2 linked regions of the Homo sapiens genome follow. The protein of the gene in region 1 interacts with the protein of each later gene in a biochemical or structural test. Each region holds a gene or a part of one and is shown in the gene's direction. Other genes may lie near its edges.

Region 1 (5,772 bases):
GGGTTACTTACCCTCCTTTCCTCCCAGCGCTGCTCTAAGGACCAGAAAAGATAGTGAAGGGTTTGTGCTGTGTATGGAAACAAGTACAAAGTTCAAAATCCACCAAGTTAAAGCAATGGGAAGACCTACAGCTGAAAGAACTGGGAGGGTGATGATAACTCGTGCCATTTCTCAAACACTATGTGCCACACGTTGTGATAGACTCTCTTTCTTTCTTTCTTTTTCTTTCTTTCTTTCTTTCTTTCTTTCTTTCTTTCTTTCTTTCTTTCTTTCTTTCTCTCTCTCTCTCTCTCTCTCTTTCTTTCTTTCTTTCTTTCTTTCTTTCTTTCTCTTTCTCTCTCTCTCTCTCTTTCTTTCTTCTTTTTTTTTGGAGTTTTGCTGTTGTTGCCCGGGCTGGAGGGCAATGGCGCGATCTCGGGTCATTGCAACTTCTGCCTGCCAGGTTCAAGTGATTCTCCTGCCTCAGCCTCCTGAGTAGCTGGGATTACAGGAATGCATCATCACACCCGGCTAATTTTTTGTATTTTTAGTAGTGATGGGGTTTCACCATGTTGGCCAGGCTGGTCTGGAACTCCTGACCTCAAGTGATCCATCTGCCTTGGCCTCCCAAACTGCTGGGATTACAGGCATGAGCCACCGCACCCTGCATGATCTGTAGTTTCAATCCCACAACAACCTTGTGTGGTAAAAATTACTATTATCCCTATTTTATTTATCTTTCTTTCTTTTTCTTTTTTTTATTTTGAGATGGAGTCTCAGTCTGTCACCCAGGCTGGAGTGTGGTGGCACAATCTCGGCTCACTGCAACCTCCCAGATTCAAGTGATTCTCCTCCCTCAGCCTCCCGAGTAGCTGGGATTACAGACCCGCATCACTATGCCTGGCTAACTTTTGTATTTTTAGTAGAGACGGGGTTTCACCATGTTGGCCAGGCTGGTCTCGAACTCCTGACCTCAAGTGATCCACCCGCCTAGGCCTCCCAAAGTGCTGGGATTACAGGCGTGAGCCACCGTGCCCGTTCTATTTATTTTTCAACACACCATTGCTGGCTCAACTATTCTTATTTTAAAGATAGGGAAACAAAGATTCAGAGACGTTAAGTAACTTGCTCAATCAAGATCACATAGGTAATAAGAGGTTTAGGATTTGAACCCAAAATCTGAGCCCAGAGTCTGAACGCTAAATCAACATGCTGAGTTGAAATTGACTACAGCAGTTGTGATGGCGTGTGCCTGTAATCCTAGCACTTTGGAAGGCTGAGGTGGGAGGATGGCTTGAGCCCAGGAGTGTGAAGCCAGCCTGGGCAACATAGTGAGACCCTACCCCAAAAAAGGTAAAAAAAAAAAAAAAAAGGAATAATAAAAAAAATTGACTAGGGCTAATAAGTACGGGATAGACGAGAATAATATTTCTTTTTTTTTTTTTTTTGGGGACAGAGTCTCGCTCTGTCACTCAGGCAGGAGTGCAGTGGCGCAATCTCGGCTCACTGCAAGCTCTGCCTCCCGGGTTCACGCCATTCTTCTGTCTCAGCCTCCCGAGTAGCTGGAACTACAGGCGCCTGCCACCATGCCCGGCTAATTTTTTGTATTTTTAGGAGAGACGGGGTTTCACCGTGTTAGCCAGGATGGTCTCGATCTCCTGACCTCGTGATCCGCCTGCCTCGGCCTCCCAAAGTGCTGGGATTACAGGCGTGAGCCACCGCGCCCGGCCGAGAATATATTATATTTTTCTTGTTATTCATTCAACAAATAGGAACACAGTACCTACTCTGTTGCCACATCTATGCCAGCCCTGTTTCAGGGGTGTTGGGGGAGATGAAATCAATAAAATATGATGTCTACTTTCAGGGATGGATTTCATGCCCCAGGCAGCAGAGTAGGAAGAATGACTATAGTCTCAGTAGCTGCTGGTTGGAGCCTGCCATCACTTCAGATGGGGTTGTTCCCCAGAAGAGGCAACCCGCATACCTTCCCAGGTCCATCCTGGGCTGCCACCTGAGTTGCCTGTCTTCCTTCTGCCACCTCCACCCCTATCCCAGGCCTGCCACTGCTCATAGCAGATTTCCTATCAAAGGCTCTCCTGGCCTCCTCTCTTATCTGTGGCCCCCGCAGGGCACCCACTTTCAGAAACTCCCTGGAAGGCCCAGCACCTGCCTCTCTCCACCCCTGGATTTCTACCAGCTTGGCTGAGGCCTGGGGCTAGTGGGGAGAGCTTCTTGGCCTCTTCCCAGAGGCAAGGGAGGAGGAGGGAGGCTGGGAAAGCCGCTGGGGCTCAGTGTCGCAATTCCGGGCCGTGCTGGGACCTTTGCTCCACGAGGTGCCTATGGAGGGGAGGGAACACGATTCTGGAGGCTGCTGGGATTGGGGTGGGGGTTCCTGGGAGGCAGTCCTTTTGCAAGAGCTGCTAAGAGCGCTGGGTAAGGAGAGGAAGGGGAGAGACATGGAACTTGGCTGGTCTGCAGGGAAATGCCACTGTTTTGGCCGGGAGTAGGGGGCGGGAGTGGCGGGAGAGGGGGTGGCCGGCTGGGGAGGAGCCAGCCTGGTGGAGAAGCTGCCCTGTGGGCGGGGGTGAGGAGGGGAGGGCTGTGGTCACCAGGCAGGAAGGAGGGGTGGCCTGACCCCTCGGCAGTCCCTCCCCTCAGCCTTTCCCCAAATTGCTACTTCTCTGGGGCTCCAGGTCCTGCTTGTGCTCAGCTCCAGCTCACTGGCTGGCCACCGAGACTTCTGGACAGGAAACTGCACCATCCTCTTCTCCCAGCAAGGGGGCTCCAGAGACTGCCCACCCAGGAAGTCTGGTGGCCTGGGGATTTGGTGGGTCTGCTCCTTAGCAGTGGCCTGGGGCTCTGTGTGTGTATCTGGGGTGGGGTCGGGGAATGTCCTAAGGATCTGAGAAGGGGGTTTCTGGGGAGAAGTGAGGGGTGATGGTGATGGAAGCTTGGGACAGGAGCAGGACTCTGGGTCCCAGAATAACTCATGAGGGGCTCAGGGGAGGAGGTCCTCTATGTGAATTGGGGAGATTCTTGGAGACAGGTTTGTGCTGGGACCCTGGAAAGTGGCACGAGCGAGGTTCTCTAATAAGCAGCGTGTTTCACTGGGTGGAGTGAGCTGTCCTCAGTGTTGGAGTGAGGGGGAAGGGGCCCAAGAGAAGCAGGGCAGATGCACCCAAACATTCCCTGCTGGCCTGGAGGGGACTTTGGGGGAGAAAAGCCGGCACGGTGGCTGGGAGCCCAGACTTTGGAGTCAGAGGAGGGTTGGAGTCTTGACTCTACCGCCGCCTAACTGTGTGACCATAGTTACTTAATCTCTTTGAACCTCAGTTTGCTTATCTGTAAAATGAGTTTAAGAATAGTCCTGAGCCAGGAGCAGTAGCGTGCGCCCATAATCTCAGATACTCAGGAAGCTGAAACCTGATTGCTTCAGCCCAGTAGTTTGAGGCGATAGTGTCCTATTATTGCACCTGTGAATAGCACTGAGTTCCAGCCTGGGCAACATAGAGAGACCCCATCTCAAAAAAAAAATTAATAGTTTTGACCTCAGAGGGATATTATGAGGAAAGCACATAAAGCCTTATAACAGGCTGGGCGCAGTGGCTTACTCCAATAATCCCCACACTTTGGGAGGCCCAGGTGAGAGGATCACTTGAGCCCAGGAATTCCTAGACTAGCCTGGGCAAAATAGGGAGAACCTGTCTCTAAAAAACATAATAGTAATATAATAAAGCCTTAGTACAGGCTAATATATGGCAAGTAAATGTTAGCTGATATTGTTGATATTGATAAAAGGGAGGATCAGGTGGAGAAGGGAGCTGAGGCCAGAAAGGAGCCCAGTTCTAGAAGAGTATAATCTGGGTCCTTCCTGCAGGACAGTGCCTTGGTAATGACCAGGGCTCCAGGAAGAGATGTCCTTGTGGCTGGGGGCCCCTGTGCCTGACATTCCTCCTGGTAAGCTTCATTCCATCCCTCTCCCCTGAGCCCAGACCGCAGGCTCCACGCCTCCTGTAGGAATCAGCCTCCTTCATTACCTGCCTTCTTCCTTCCTCCAGAGAGCAGTCCAGAGTCATTCTTAGTCGTGCTTGCCTCCCGCCCAGATCACCTCTCCCCTGGTTCCAGTGCCTGGCCCTTGCAGGCACCCGCCCAGTCCTCCCCAGTCTGGATTTGCTGCTAGAGAGTTGGCCAGCTGAGTGCTTACCCTGCTCTGGCTTTGAAGAGTTTTATCTGATCTCTGAAATGCATACACTCCAGCCCCCCAAAGGGACAAGGATTAACATCTTCATTTAAGGTCCTGAGATGTAAGAAACTACAAGTGACTAGTCCTAGCTAGAGCCCACACAGACTCTAGGGTCCCAAAGCCTGAGCTGGGACTTTGCTGCCCTCTAAGGGTGGGGATAAGTTTGCAGTTTCCCAGCTAGGACGCTGGGCCGTGGAGCCGGGATGGGGCCTGAGACCCCCTTGTGCCTCTCTTTTGGAGCTCAGACTCTGCGGTGGAGCTGTGGAAGCCAGGCGCACAGGATGCAAGCAGCCAGGCCCAGGGAGGCAGCAGCTGCATCCTCAGAGAGGAAGCCAGGATGCCCCACTCTGCTGGGGGTACTGCAGGGGTGGGGCTGGAGGCTGCAGAGCCCACAGCCCTGCTCACCAGGGCAGAGCCCCCTTCAGAACCCACAGGTGAGGAGCTTCTGGGTTTGGAGGAGGTAGGGGTCCAGATTCCAGGTCCTGGATCTGGAAGAGGTTCCTTGGGGGTTTTTACTTTATATATAATCTCATGGTTAAGTTCAGAGGCTTTAGAGCTAACTAAATCTGACTGATCTAAGTGTGAATTTTGTCTCTAGGCCTTTCTGAGCCTCACTTTCCTTGTTTATAAAATGGAAATAAAAATTATGGTTGTCATAAGGATCAGTGCATATAAAAGGCTCATACAGTACCTAGAACATAATGGCACTTGGCAAATGAGGGCTACTCTTCTCATAAAAGAGAGACTGGAGTTTGTATAATGAAGGGAATGAAGGTCACTGAGTGCCCAGGGCAGTGGCTGAGTCAGGGAGAACATGATGTTTTTCCTCGGGGGAGAGCGTTGAAGCACTTTCCTGTATCCAGAGATCCGTCCACAAAAGCGGAAAAAGGGGCCAGCCCCCAAAATGCTGGGGAACGAGCTATGCAGCGTGTGTGGGGACAAGGCCTCGGGCTTCCACTACAATGTTCTGAGCTGCGAGGGCTGCAAGGGATTCTTCCGCCGCAGCGTCATCAAGGGAGCGCACTACATCTGCCACAGTGGCGGCCACTGCCCCATGGACACCTACATGCGTCGCAAGTGCCAGGAGTGTCGGCTTCGCAAATGCCGTCAGGCTGGCATGCGGGAGGAGTGTGAGTTTCTGGGGCTGGAGTGGGGAAGAGGCTGAGGGGAAAGAGGGGGCCAGGGTGTGACCCAAAACAGGTGCCTGAACTTGCAGGGGCTAACTGATCCCTAAGTATGGATCCCAGTATCTTTCTTGACCGGGCGCGGTGGCTCATGCCTGTAATCCCAGCACTTTGGGAGGCCGAAGCGGGTGGATCACCTGAGATCAGAAGTCCGAGACCAGCCTGGCCAACATAGTGAAACCCCGACTCTACTAAAAATACAAAAATTAGCCGGGTGTGGTGGTGAGCGCCTGTAATCCCAGCTACTCAAGAGACTGAGGCAGGAGAATCACTTGAACACGGGAGGTGGAGGTTGCAGTGTGCCAAGATCATGCCACTGCACTCCAGCCTGAGCAAGTGTGAGACTCTGTTTCAAAAAAAAAA
Region 2 (3,500 bases), on another chromosome or scaffold:
GCAACAGGTTACGGTAATTTAAAGAAAATATAAACTTTAAGACCCTAACCTGTTATACTAGTACTATAATTATAGCCTTGTAATAACTTTAAGTCACTTCTTAATCTCAGTATTGGGAGTTTAAATTCTTCAAGGCCAGCTAGTCCAATTCCCATATTTTATACATAAGAAAACAGAAGGTTGTATAGGGGCGATATCTCATGCATAGTTGATTTCATAACTGGGAGAAGAATCCATTGCACAGCTGCTAAGTCTACATTTGTTTAATATGTCAGATAATTATAAAATCAGAACATAATTGTGATCAACTTGGCAGTCTATTCAGTATTAATTAAAAACTCAAAATGGGCCTTTTTTTTCATGAATCCAAAGTGTTAACTTAAAAATGAATCTGAACCCTTTCCTCTGTAGTTGGGACTATAAATTGATACCATTGGAGCAACCTTCTGGAAGGAAATTTGGCATTCCCTATCAAGATTAAAAGTATATATATTGTTTGATAGAATCATTTCCTGCTTAAAATTTATGTTACATAAATTTTAACAGCATAGGAATTGTATAAGAATGTTTATATTAGCATTATTTCAAGATGTCAATAACATTTATAAATAATTTAAAAATGTCCTAAATGTCTGTTGGTAGGCTAATAGTTAAAAGTCTAGTATTTTTATGCTGTGAATTACTGTGCAGTTGTTAACAGGTTTCAGGGTATCTATATTTACTTCATGAGCAGCAGCTGAGCATATCCTTCAGCTCCTGGAACCATGCGGTGGACCTTCTGGATTCAAAACCTAACTGCACTACTTTCTAGCTGTGACTCTTGGCGAATTACTTAAAGTCAACTATAAATTGGATATACTAGTAGTTCTCATGTTACAGGGGTACCATGAGAATTAAATGAGTTAACAGTTAGGCCCTAAATAAGCATTAATAAGCGCCACATAAGTGTTTGCTGTTACAATTATGTATTGACTTGGAAGAATGTTCATGATATAAAATTAAGTGAAAAAATAAGTTGCACTATACTATAGAATATGATTTATTTAAAAAACACATAGACAAATGTAGTTTTGTTTTCATTTTGCATGTGAATAGAAAAAGGTCTATAAGGATAGACATTAAACATGTTATTCCTGAGGGAGTGGATGACTTTTCTTTTTTACTTTAGACATTTTTGTATGGTTTTATTGTAAGAATCACTTTTATAATTTTTGAAACTTTTTTCTAAAAAAAGGAAGTAAATTTTTTCTTCTATTAAATAGTGATATAAATGTATTTTTGAATGTGATTTTTAGAGATCTACACATTTCATCAACAGAGTGTCTCATAATTAGATCCTGTGTCAAAACATTTGTTGATGGAAGGGCTGGGACTTGGTGGCTCACGCCTGTAATCCCAGCTCTTAGAGAGGCCGAGGCAAGTGGGTCACTTGAGGTCAGGAGTTCGAGACCGGCCTGGCCAACAAGGCGAAACCCATCTCTACTAAAAATACGAAAACTAGCAAGGCGTGGTGGCAGGCCTGTAATCCCAGCTACTGGGGAGGCCAAGGCAGGAGAATTGCTTGAACCAGGGAGGTGGAGGTTGCAGTGAGCCAAGACTGCCACTGCACTCCAGCCTGGGCAACAGAGCAAGACTCCATCTCAAAACAAACAAAACTTTTGTTGGCTGGGTGCGGTGTCTCATGCCTATAATCCCAGCACTTTGGGAGGCTGAGGCGGGCAGATCACCTGAGATTAGGAGCTTCAGACCAGCCTGGCCAACATAAGGAAACCCCATCTCTACTAAAAGTAAAAAACTAGCTGGGCATGGTGGCAGGCTCCTATAATCCCAGCTGCTGGGGAAGCTGAGGCAGGAGAATTGCTTGAACCTGAGTGGCAGAGGTTGCAGTGAGCCAAGATTGCACCACTGCACTCCAGCCTAGGTGACAGAGGAAGACTCTGGCTCAAAACAGACAAACAAACAAAAAAACTTTTGTTGGCAGAAGGTTGAAATTTAGGAAAATCTATAATAAATATATTTGTTTTTCTCCTAGCTTTGTAGCCTTAAGTCTTATTTCTTACTTTACAAAGTAAACCCGTAGGCTAGATCAGTGTTTCTTAAATCCAGTATTCCTAAACTGTGCACTGAAGTAAATCCTCACTTAATGTTGTCCATAAGTACTTGGAAACTGCAACTTCTAAGACCCCAAACACCTCTAATATTAAACATTGAAATAAATGGGTCCTATGCATACATTTAAGAAATACTAAAAACAAGATAATTACCCACTTATTTCAGTTCAGGATGGCAGGTGGCTGGAGCCTGTCCCGGCAAGTAGGGCACAAGATAGGCTGCCATTCCATTGCAGGTAGCATTTACAGACACACACACACCCACCCACCCACCCACATTCACTCAGACTGGGACCATATAGACATGCCAATTCATGTCAGTTCACCTAATGCGTGCACCTCTCTGATGTGGGAGGAAACTGGAGCATACGGAGAAAAGCCACACAGACATGGGGAGAACATGCAGGCTCCACATAGATGGTAGCCCTGGTGGGGAAATCAAAATTTTTTTCTCATCAAAATTGTGAAGAAATGATATTGAATGAAACTATGTTATGGAGGACCTGCCGTACTGTGGAGCACCATAGTAACTCACCTGGACACTATGCATTATTTGAGAAATTTTAATGGAAACAGCAATATTGGATAGCTGTGGGATATTTGACATCTATAGGACACTACTCAAACTACCAGTTTGAGATACCACACAAGAGATTGTGTTCCATTTTTTTTGATGACACTGTGTCTTCCAAACGCTAGGTTTTGGGAGTTTGCTGTGATAAAAAGCAAGTACTATGCAAAAATCAATTTGGAACAGTAAATGAAGGTGGTGGTGTCCAAAATGATTTCAAGATTTGAGAACTTGTGTAATATCTAGTAGGTACACACATCCTATTAAGTAGTTGTGGTAATTTAGTAATAAAAATATTTATTTCAATTTATACATATTTATTTTTCGATCTGCTACTAAGTTGGTAGGCTATAAATACTTTTTAGGTTGTGGACTGAACTACTTAGTAAATGGAACTGTTAGGTATTTTTTTGGCCTAGGGGTTCCATGAAAAAAATAACTGGCATACTGAGGGGTCTGTGAACTGAGAAAGTTTAGGAACCTCTTGAACTTTTGACCAGGACACCTATATATATTTTCCATGTTCTGTGCTCCCAAAGGTTGATTTTTTACATTTATCTTTATTTTTTATTTTTTTAAATAAAAAGAATAGATGTGTGTTATACGTGTATGTGTATACATATAATGAATCAAAAGTTTCACTTTTCAAAGTTTTACTTTAAACAGCCTCATGGCCAGGCGCGGTGGCTCATGCCTATAATGCCAGCACTTTGGAAGGCCGAGGTAGGCAGATCATTTGAGGTCAGGAGTTCAAGACCAACCTGGCCAACGTGGTGAAACACCATCTCTACTAAAAATACAAAAAAATTAGCTCGGCG

Evidence for each region. Proteins that work in one complex are often made in the same cells at the same time.
Region 2: the proteins of NR1H3 (region 1) and CEP350 form a complex in vitro, tested with the Homo sapiens proteins (one study listed by BioGRID).

What each region holds. Positions count from the first base shown.
Region 1 is NC_000011.10:47,255,321-47,261,092, forward strand, and holds the start of NR1H3 (oxysterols receptor LXR-alpha), read left to right. Parts: upstream 1-2,675; 5' UTR 2,676-2,809; exon of another isoform or gene 2,810-3,859; 5' UTR 3,860-3,896; coding exon 3,897-3,939; intron 3,940-4,465; exon of another isoform or gene 4,466-4,470; coding exon 4,471-4,659; intron 4,660-5,088; coding exon 5,089-5,355; intron 5,356-5,772. UniProt on the Homo sapiens protein: Nuclear receptor that exhibits a ligand-dependent transcriptional activation activity.
Region 2 is NC_000001.11:179,957,810-179,961,309, forward strand, and holds part of CEP350 (centrosome-associated protein 350), read left to right. Parts: intron 1-3,500. UniProt on the Homo sapiens protein: Plays an essential role in centriole growth by stabilizing a procentriolar seed composed of at least, SASS6 and CPAP. Required for anchoring microtubules to the centrosomes and for the integrity of the microtubule network.